2 linked regions of the Homo sapiens genome follow. The protein of the gene in region 2 interacts with the protein of the main gene of each other region in a pairwise test. Each region holds a gene or a part of one and is shown on either strand. Other genes may lie near its edges.

Region 1 (5,348 bases), on a different chromosome or scaffold from region 2:
ATTCATTCCAATAAAAAGTCTTGGCTTTTCAGAGGGAATAAGTAACTGACTCTCCCCCTTTCTTGGTCAACGGCACCATCTCTTGCACCATTCTTCTCTCTCAGGTGTTAAGAACTCACCATTAGGGTGACCAGCGTCCCAGTTTGCCCAGGACTGTGAGTTTCCAGAGATGCTAAACCCAGGATAGTCCCAGGCAACCCTGGCTGAAGGGTCACCCTACTCAGATAAGAACTGAGGCCCAGTGGTTTTTGAAACCTAAGTTGCTGTGCCCACTCATGGTTCCCTCGCCAGGAATGTTCCTTGTTTTTCCTATTTTTTTAGGGAGTGAGGAGAAAGAAGACCAAAGTTTGGAAGGGGAGGGGGGTACCTAAATTCTAAACCAAAAGTTGAGCAAAGTTTTTCTGTGGAGTTTGCAGTGGACACCTGGGGTGGCCATCCTGGGCTGCACTCTCGACCGGCCCCAAAGGAAGAGACAGGGAGTGCAAAAGGGGAAGAGGGAAGCTAATTATATACTTTAAAACTCCCTCACCTTGTCACCCACAGAGAGAGGGAGGGACCAAAGGAGGAAAGAGAATTAATTTTTACCTTAGACTCAAGGGAATAGAAAAATGGGTCAAGTGGCCACGAATTTTTTTTCCCCTGAAAGCTTCCAGAGAGAACGGAGAATGCAAAATGTCCAAAGGTGGCTTTAAAGAGCGCCACGATCAGGTTAATCAATCCACACTGACCAGTCGCAGGGGGTGGTGGGGGGGGGCACTTCGCTCCCATTCCCACCCAGAAAGCCTCTTTTCTGGCCGGTTTCCAAAAAAAGAACACTGGAACCTAAATGACTCCATAGTATTACGGCTCTGGCGTTTTGGGGTTTTTCTCTGTGCTGGAGACTGTGCTGGCCATTTTTCACGCACGACCCCATTTAATCTCCTGAGAGCCCTCCAAGGGAGATGCTACTAGAAGGAATATCCTCATCATGCATGTCAAGAAATAGGCTCTGGTGCCCAAGATAACATGGCTGGTGAATAATGTGAACCTGGGCCAGTCTGACCCAGAGTCCGGAGTGTTTTCCCTCTCCTCTCTGCCCTCTTTCAGAGCAGGCACCATCCCATCCGGCCCTTTTCTCAGGAGCTGAGCTGGCATTCTCGGAAATGCGTTACTGCACGGCTCTTAGGCTCTGATCATTTCTGGATGGAGTCCACCTTCCCGGCGGTGCTTTTTATTGCTGAGAAAGTGTATATGTGTGCTTGCTACTGGGGGGGAAACAGGGAGGGGGAAGCATAAGCCCTACGCACCCAACAGATGCCTCCCACTCCAAGTCCCTGAAGAAAGACTTCATTCTCAAGGGGCCGCTGCATCCAATCTACTCAAGCACTAACATTTCAGAAACTTTCATTGGTCTGATAATCTCATGGACAGTCTCTCAACCCCCTGCAACTAAAACCCATCAAAATCCTAAAACGTTGGCACAAGGGTAGATCAGATAGATGTTATACAATTTAGTTAATGGGTGAAGACAGGTACCTTTTCTCATTTGCTCAGCAAACGTTTATAGGACGCCTGCTTTGTCCCACACACTGGGGTTGCAGTGGTGAAGAACAGGGTAAAGATCATGGGTCTCACAGCCTCAGAGCTTGACTTTTTCCTGGGGAATGGTAGAACTACCAGGGAGGGGTGGAACCCCACCCAAGAGAACCCCTTCTTTCTCTCTCTCTAGTGCAGGCACATAGCTTTGAATGACATCCTTAATCTTTCTTATTTCTCTGACCGGGATTTAACACTATTACTTCCACTCCTTTCCATAGATCCACATCCTTAATCCTAAGCCATCGAGGCCAGACGTGCTTTGGAATTCAGAACTCAGGGCTTTTAGACGCATTGCAAAGATGGGAATGTAAAATGGTACAACCACTTAGGAAAACAGTTTGAGAGCCTCTTATAAAATTAAACATACACCTACCACACAACTCAGCAATCTCACTCCTGGGTTAATTTACCCAAGAGAAATGAAATGTATGAAATGAAATGTTCCCACTAAAACCCATAAGCCAATGTTTATAGCAGCTCTATTCATAATCATTGAAACTGGAAGCATCCCAATGTCCTTCGGCTGGGAAGCAAACTCTGGTCCATCCATATCATGGAATCCTGCTCAACACCAAAAAGGAAGGCGCTACTGTCACAGGCAACAGCATGAATGAATCTCAAAGTCTGAGTAAAAGAATCCACATTCAAAAGGCTATATACTGTGAAATTACATTTATATGACCTTCGGCAAAAGGCAAAGCTGTAGGGATGGAGAACAGATCAGTGGTTGAAGGGGCTGGAGAAGTGGGGTGCTGACTCAAGAGGGGCACTGTGGGGGTATTTTAGGGTTGATGAAACTGTCCCATATCTTGATTTGGGTGGTGGCCACAACTACATCCATTTGTCAAAGCTTGCAGACCAGTATGTCAAAAGGGTGAATTTTGCTACAAATAAATTATACATCAATAAATCTATTTTTTTTTTGAGACAGAGTCTCAAAAAAAAGTACAGTGGTGCAATCTCGGCTCACTGCAACCTCTGCCTCCCAGGTTCAAATGATTCTCCTGCCAGCCTCCCGAGTAGCTGGGATTATAGACGCACAATACCACGCCTGGCTAATTTTTGTATTTTTAGTAGAGACGGGGTTTCACCATGTTGGCCAGGCTGGTCTCGAACTCCTGACCTCATGATCCACCGGCCTCAGCCTCCCAAAGTGCTGGGATTATAGGCGTGAACCACCAGACCCGGCCCCTATAAACCTGATTTTTAAGGAAAAGAAAAATGATAACAAGATGTCTCTATGATCTAACCTGGATACTCCAACCCTAGCCCATGAACTTACCACATGGGGAATCCCTAGAAGCTAGCTAGAAAAGCAGAATCCCAGACCCCACCCAAATCCTGCTGGACCAGAACCATCCTGTTAACAAGACAACTTCCATACACCTGAAAGTTTGACAGGACTACAATGCAGACCTAACAGTCAGGAGCTGAAGCAGCACCTCATCATCAAGCACATCTAACATTTCTGCTGCAAAACATACTCAAATGCACACCAAGTAGAATGAATGAAAACTGTAAATTAAGACTTCAAACTGAAGTCAGTTCAGGTTAGGTTTTACCTCTATATGAGCTCGTCTTTTGGTTTTTGGAGCTTTTTGGATTGGGGAATTGTGGATAAGAAATTGCACCCTTTTTGAAAATACTCCCATTGGAAAAGCCGTGCTAAATTTTACTTCGCAGAATTTTGCTCCTCTGGAAATACCAGCCAAGCCGGTCTAGTACAAGGATCACGTAAGTGACACCATCCTGCCCTCTACGGCAGTACCTTCTAGAACATTCTATCTCTCAGGACAGGCCAAGAGTCTGATAACCTGCTCCCATGTCTCCCAGCGCTTCTCATGCAGAAAGTTTCTCTTTAGAGAGCTTTTCTTAAAAAAAAAAAAAAAAAAAAAAATGAGAGGAGTGCCAATCAGCCAATGTCCACAGATGTCAAAGTGATGTCACCTGATGTCAATGTGACTTTAGGTGTCTTGTTAAGATTTCTGCAAACCGGATGAAAAGCTGGAATTCTACGTGTAATTCAGGCAACTGTGCGTGATAATACACTGACCTGCTTCCAGTGTTCCTCCGATGGCCTGAGTTTCTACATCATGTTCAGTGGGAGACCTGGTGGCACAGGGAGGGCTGGAAAGATGACATTCACCTTGGCACTTGGTAGAAGGAGTGAGTGGCATTAAGTGGGGAGGGAACTCTAGGAAGGCTGACAGATGCTCCTTTTTGAGCTGACAGATCTGAGCTCTTCGGCAATCATCAGAGACCCTCATGGCCCTATTTGAATCACAATTCCAGTCAATGAAAACATGAAACCAAGGTGTGTGGTCAAGACGGCTTGCTGCCTGGCATGAGAAAAACACGGCAATGTAAATTTGAACATCAAAGACTTCCATTTGGGTTTCCTCACTTAGGAAGAGGGGAAAAAATGAAATAAATGAGGATTCTTAATTGTCATTGATGGCTTCAAGTTTGACCCACTGAGGGATGAAAGAGGAAGAAATCATAGTGACAAATTGCCCCGAGTGTGGAGAAAGCAAGACTGCATCCTTCACCAGTGTACCATGCCAGAATTTACATTTGGAAGTAGCACTCTTAGGCCCTGTGAGCATACCGACAAGTTCATGGATCATTCACTCACTTCTCTTAAACAAGACAGGGAGGAACCTGCTTTCCATATCGACCTGCAACCCTTAGTCAACACCATTTCCAAATACACATCCCACAACACATGCATCAAAAAGTAGCAGGGGCGATTCCACTCCTATCTAAGAGAACTGTGGGAAAAAAATAATAGAAGACACAAGAATGTTCCCAGTGGCACAAACAGAAATGACACAAATGCCCATCAACAGTAGAATGGATAGATTGTAGTAGAGTCACATACACAGATGTGAGCAAAAGAAGCCAGTGGCAAAAGAACGTACTGTGTGACTCCATTTACATGTTTAAAAGAGGCAAAATGAACCTTAGAAGTCAGGTGAGCGGTACCCTTGTTGGGGGAGCAACTAGGAGGCGGTATGGGGAGGGGGACTTCCAGGGCACTGATCGGGACCTGGGTGCTGGATACGTGGGTGTGTTCATTTTGTAAAAATCTATGCATCTGAATATATGTACTTGCCTGTACATATATTAGACTTTATTTAAGTACCTACACACTTTTTTTTTCACTCTCAGGATATGCTGAAACATTTTTTTTTAATGGCAGAAATATTTAGATTAAAAAGTAGAATGTTCTGCCCTGGTATCGTGACTCTGACATTCCACGTGTCTTTCTCTTTACACTGGCCTGAATTCTTTTATTCACTACCTCCCTCCCCAGGTCTCTGTCCATCCCCTCTCATCTCCAACCCTCCCACCCACCCCGCCACCGCCCTCCGCTCCATCCAGGACAGAGAAAGCTCAGTCCTGGATGACCCAGCTCGATGACAGATTGTGAGGTGGGGAGTTTTCCCTTCCAGAGTAGGGCTGTATAATGTGTTTGTTACCTCGGGTCAAAGAGAACAAAAACAGTCTGCAGAGAGCATAATGCACAAACTCATCATAAGAGCAAGAAAGCCCCGGGCGAGCTGGCCAGAGAATAGATGAAGTGGCAAGCAACACTCGCAATTCACCTGCCTCCCTCTCCCACGATTCCCCCTTCCGAGGGGCCACTGCAATCCCCCTCTCCCCCAACAGCCCTCCAATCTGCAGGATTCAGGCTGGACAGAGGTAAGCTAAGGACACAGCAGAAGGGCTCCCCACCTCCTTCCTTTCCTCTTAGAAGTCTCCAAATC
Region 2 (5,462 bases):
AAAATTTCAGATTTGGGGTTTTCAGATTTAGGATGCTCAATCATGATGTAGTAATCATGACAGTGAGACACTTTAAAAATGTCATTGAAAAACAAAAACAAAAATAAGAAAAAAGAAAAAAATATATAATTGAAGATTTAAATTACATGCTTACCTGAGTTTCTTTCATAAGTCTGCTGTATACAACCTAGGAAATGCAAAAACTAAAATAAAAATCACCTATAACTCATTTACTTAGAGATAGACTCAATATTTTCATTTATTTCCTATTTTGTTTTACTGTGCAGATACATTTTAAACTTTTATGAATTTTAAGTTGAAAAACTAATACATGAACATATTCTTATTGCAAAAATTCAAACCTTATACGTAAAGCTGAAGGCCCCCAATGACTTCCATTCCTAGACTCAGTCCCTTTTGCAGAGATTCTGTGAGGAGTTTGGTATATATAGTATTTTCAAGATCTCTCTTTGTAGAAATAGGGTATTGTTTTATGGTGTTAAAAGAAATACTTATGTACAATTTACTTTTTTGTTTCTTTTGAACTAAACAGTAGGTTTCTTGGCTTGTGTTACAATGAAACTGCCATATAGTATTAAATAGCATTTTATACCGTAATTTGTTCAGTTTCTCCCCATTGTAAGATATTTTGAGTGTTTCCATTTTTTTGTTGTTGTTACTGCAATTTTACATTCTCACTTATGCCTATCCTCTCACATTTATTCATTCATTTAATAAACACTGATTTCTTGTCATATGCCAAGCACTGTTTGAGCAGTAAGAATAAGACTGAAAATTCAGGTTTATCACATCATGGAACTTATATTCTAGTGAGAGAAGATGGATATAAAAATTGAATATCAATTAGCAATAAATGCTTGGAAGAAAAATAAAGCAGAATAAGAGGATGTAAAGTGTTAGGAGGATGAGAGCTCCTTTCTTGAATACAGTAGACTAGGAATGGGCCTCTATAAGAAGGTGATACTTGAGCAACAAAGGGATGAACCATGTGAAGATGGTTTGAGAGCATTCCAGGTGGAGAGAACAGCAAATGTAAAGGACCTGATGAAAGAGTAGGCTGTTGGGTGGCAGGGGGAACAAGCAGGATACCAATGTAGCTGAAATAAAGTTGAGGAAAATATTAGAAGATGTTAGGAAATGAAAGTTGAGGAAAATGCCTAGAGGTGAACAGGAGCTAAAATATTTAGAGCCGTATAATTGAAATTACAGTAGCCACAAGCCACATGTGCTTTTTGAGCACTTGAAATGTGGCTAGTCTACATTGAGATATGCTTCAAGGATAAAATATACACTGGATTTCCAAAGACTTGTACAAAAAAAAAAAACTCAGTAACATTTTTGTTTAGTATATTTTGAAGTGGTAATAGTTTGGTTGTACAAGTTGAACATCACTAATCTGAAAATCTGAGGTCCAAAATGTAAACTTTCTGAGCATCACAATTGAAAATTTCACACATAAGTACTTAATACAAACTTTGTTTCATGCACAAAATTATTTTTTAAGTTGTATAAAATTACACATACAATTCAGGCTGTATGCATAAGGTATGTTTGAAATATAAATGAATTTTGTGTTTAAACTGTGTCCCATCCCCAGGATATCTCGTGTATGATAATATTCCAAAATTCAAAAAAAAAATCTGAAACACTTCTGGTCCCAAGCATTTCCTATAAAGGATATTCAATCTGTACATACTGAGTTAAATAGAATATATTAAAATTAGCCTGGTTTTTGTTTGATTGTTTGAGTCTCGCTCTGTCCCCCAGGCTGGAGTGCAGTGGTGCAGTCTTGGCTCACTGCAACCTCTACCTCCCGGGCTCAAGCAATTCTCCTGCCTCAGCCTCCTGAGTAGCTGGGATTACAGGCACCCGCCACCACAGCCGGCTAATTTTTGCATTTTTAATAGAGATAGGGTTTCACTATGTTGGTCAGGCTGGTCTCGAACTCCTGACCCTGATCCGCCCGCCTCAGCCCCCCAAAGTGCTGGGATTACAGGCGTGAGCCACCGCACCCGGCCCAAAATTAGCCTGTTTTTGTTTGTCAAAATGTGGCTACTGAAAAATTTTATACCTGGGTGGCTCATGTTTTTATTGAGCAGTGCTGGTCTAGAGCCTTAAAATCCATGCTAAAACTTTTCAGATGAATAGTAAGACAGTTTTAGGCAGGGGAAGGATATGATAAGGTTTGTGTTTTAAAAGAATCATTCCACTCTGGCTATTTTGTGCAGAAGAGGCAGTACAGAATTAAGAGTAAAATAAGAGAAACCAGTTAGGAGGCTATTGGAATAGCCTAGATAAGAAATGATAATGGTAAAGGTAATGAGAACTTTTGGGATAGTTTTTGAAGCTAGAGCCAAATTACCTTCCTAATGGTTTGGATAATGAGGTATGAGGGAAAGTGGAACCGAAGATGACCCCCAGGTTTTCAGCCTCAGCAGCTGGCTTGGACAATGATAATGTTTACTGAGTATTCAAGGGAATGGAGGTAGAAGAATAAAGAGTTTTGTCTTAGATATATTAATTATTTTTAATAAAGTAAATTTTTATTGAAATATAACATAGCGTACATAGCATATGAAACTGTCATTTTTAGAGTCCATCATTTTGGATACTATTTACACTTAGTGCCTTTGTTTCTTCTACGGGTAAGTATCATCTTCCACCAAGTATTACGATTCAGCATTTTAAGTCCTTAAAATAAAATGCCTTATCAAAATAATGTCTGTTAAATAATAGCTTTCTGTTATGGAAATAAAGCTGTTACACAGAGTATCTCTTTGGTATTTTTTGTGTCTATACCAGCATATCAGTAAAGGCTGTTGCTCAGAATCAGCAAGTACCCTCATATGTAAAATTGAATGTGCTTTTACTCAAAATGTAAATCTACCACATATACTATTTAACAATAGTTAAATAGTATATTAACTATATACTATTTAACAATAGTTAAATAGTATATTAACTATATACTATTCTTTTTCTTCTTACATGATTTTTGCTTCTTAAAAATCTCACATTTTAATCAGAACTCTCATTTTTGTTTTCTAGGAGCACAGGGATCAGTTGTCCTTGTTTTTTTTTGGTCTTTTCTTCATTTGAAGGTAATCTGCTTATTGAGTTCACTAATCATACAGAGTAAATACAATTTTCTGTTTGAGCTATTAATCTGTATTCCGGTTGATAAATAGAAAGTTGATTACATAATAATGGTTAAGGCTTAACTTTCAAGTCTTTTCTAATTGCTTCACAAAATGCAATCTAATCTCTAAAAAGAAAGCACTAATAATCCATGTGATTTACCTCATAGAAATAAATATCAAAATAAATTCAAACTATATTTCTAATATTGTTTCACAGAATTTTTTTTCCAGAAATTTGTGAAAGATCTTTGCTATTTTAGTCTGCTTGTCTGAAACTGTATTTTACTCACAGATTAAGTATTGGAGCCATGGGAATAAAGGTTCAACGTCCTCGATGTTTTTTTGACATTGCCATTAACAATCAACCTGGTAAGAATATTAGTTGACATTTATAAATGGGTGTTTAATATTTTAAATTAGTAAAGAAGTTTAACCAACTACCTTCTTTTTCAGCTGGAAGAGTTGTCTTTGAATTATTTTCTGATGTGTGCCCCAAAACATGCGAGAACTTTCGTTGTCTTTGTACAGGTTTGTTCACATTTTCAACTGCCCTAATAGTAGTCTCAGTTGACTATGGCTTGCTTGCTTGCTTGGTTTTTTTTTTTTTTTTTTTTTTTTTTTTGAGACAGGATCTTGCAACGTTGTCCAACTGGACTAGAACTCCTGGGCTCATCAATCCTTACACATAAGCGTCCTCAGCTGGGATACAGGTGTGAGCTACCACACCTGGCATAGCTTGCTTTAATTTTTTATTTACTCTATTTTAGATTTCTCCATGCATATTACTTTTCTCTTAACATGAAGATTACACAGCAGTGACTAGGGCGTGAAAGTAATTCTTAGAAATATTATGGCTGGGCAGCCAGGCGCAGTGGCTCATGTCTGTAATCCCAGCACTCTGGGAGGCCGAGGGGGGTGGCTCACGAGGTCAGGAGTTCCAGACGAGCCTGGCCAAGATGGTGAAACCCCATCTCTACTAAAAATACAAAAATTAGCCAAATGTGGTGGCGCACGCCTGTAGTCCCAGCTATTTGGGAGGCTGAGGAAGGAGAATCACTTGAACCCGAGAGGCAGAGGTTGCGGTGAGCCGAGATCGTGCCATTGCACTCCAGCCTGAGCTAGAAGAGCGAGACTCCATCTAAAAAAAAAAAAAGAAAGAAATATTATGGCTGGGCACGGTGTGGCTGGGCATGGTGGCTCACACCTGTAATCCCAGCACTTTGGGGGGCCGAGGTGGGTGGATCACTTGAGGTCAGTAGTTCAAGACAATCCTGTCCAACATGGTGAAACCCCATCTCTACTAAAAATGCAAATAATCGGCCAGGCGTGGTGGCTCACGCCTGTAACCCCAGCACTTTGGAAGGCCAAGGCAGGCAGATCACCTGATGTCAGGAGCTTGAGACCAGCCTGGCAAACATAGTGAAACCTCATCTCTACTGAAAAAATAAAAATTAGCCAGGCGTGGTAGTGGGTGCCTGTAATCCCAGCTACTCGGGAGGCTCAGACAGGAGAATCACTTGAACCCTAGATGGAGGTTGCAGTGAGCCAAGATCGCACCATTGCTCTCCAGCCTGGGCAACAAGAGTGAAACTCTGTCTCAAAAAAATAAATAACAAAAAATCAGCTGGGTATGGTGGTGTGTGCCTGTAGTCCCAGCTACTCTGGAGGATGAGGCGGGAGATTCGCTTGAGCCCAGGAGGCGGAGGTGGCAGTGAGCCAAGATCACTCCACTGCACTCCAGCCTGGGCGACAAGAGTGAGATCCTGTCTCAATTAAAAAAATAGAGGCCAAGTGTGGTGGCCCATGCCTGTAATCCCAGCAGTTTGGGAGGCCGAGGTGGGTGGATCACTTGAGGTCAGGAATTTTGAGACCAGCCTGGCCAACATGGTGAAATTCAGTCTCTACGAAAAAAAAAATTAGCCGGGTGTGGTGACAGGTGCCTGTAATCCCAGCCACTCAGGAGGCTGAGGCAGGAGAATCACTTGAACCCAGGAGGCGCAGGTTGCAGTGAGCCAAGATCGTGCCACCGCACTGTAGCCTGGGTGACAGAGCTAGACTCTGTCTCAAAAAAAAACCTAAAACCAAACATTAGTTGTAAAGGTATATTATTTGAGAGTGATTTCTACATTCTCCAGAAATAACGTGGGTGATTTTTTAAATGAATTTTTAAAAAAAAATTCCTGAAAGGAATGAAAATATGATTTTAAGTCTGCAGGGTTCAAGAGGGGCATATTTTACATTTATTTTGCTTTCATACTACTTTGATTTCCTTTCTATTAAATGTCCTATTTTTTTATCTCT

The links. Proteins that work in one complex are often made in the same cells at the same time.
Region 1: the proteins of PPIG (region 2) and CACNA1A interact in a two-hybrid assay, tested with the Homo sapiens proteins (one study listed by BioGRID and IntAct).

The regions. Positions count from the first base shown.
Region 1 is NC_000019.10:13,498,706-13,504,053, forward strand, and holds part of CACNA1A (voltage-dependent P/Q-type calcium channel subunit alpha-1A), read right to left. Parts: intron 1-5,348.
Region 2 is NC_000002.12:169,600,573-169,606,034, forward strand, and holds part of PPIG (peptidyl-prolyl cis-trans isomerase G), read left to right. Parts: intron 1-3,069; 5' UTR 3,070-3,122; intron 3,123-3,453; 5' UTR 3,454-3,469; coding exon 3,470-3,530; intron 3,531-3,614; coding exon 3,615-3,689; intron 3,690-5,462. UniProt on the Homo sapiens protein: PPIase that catalyzes the cis-trans isomerization of proline imidic peptide bonds in oligopeptides and may therefore assist protein folding. May be implicated in the folding, transport, and assembly of proteins.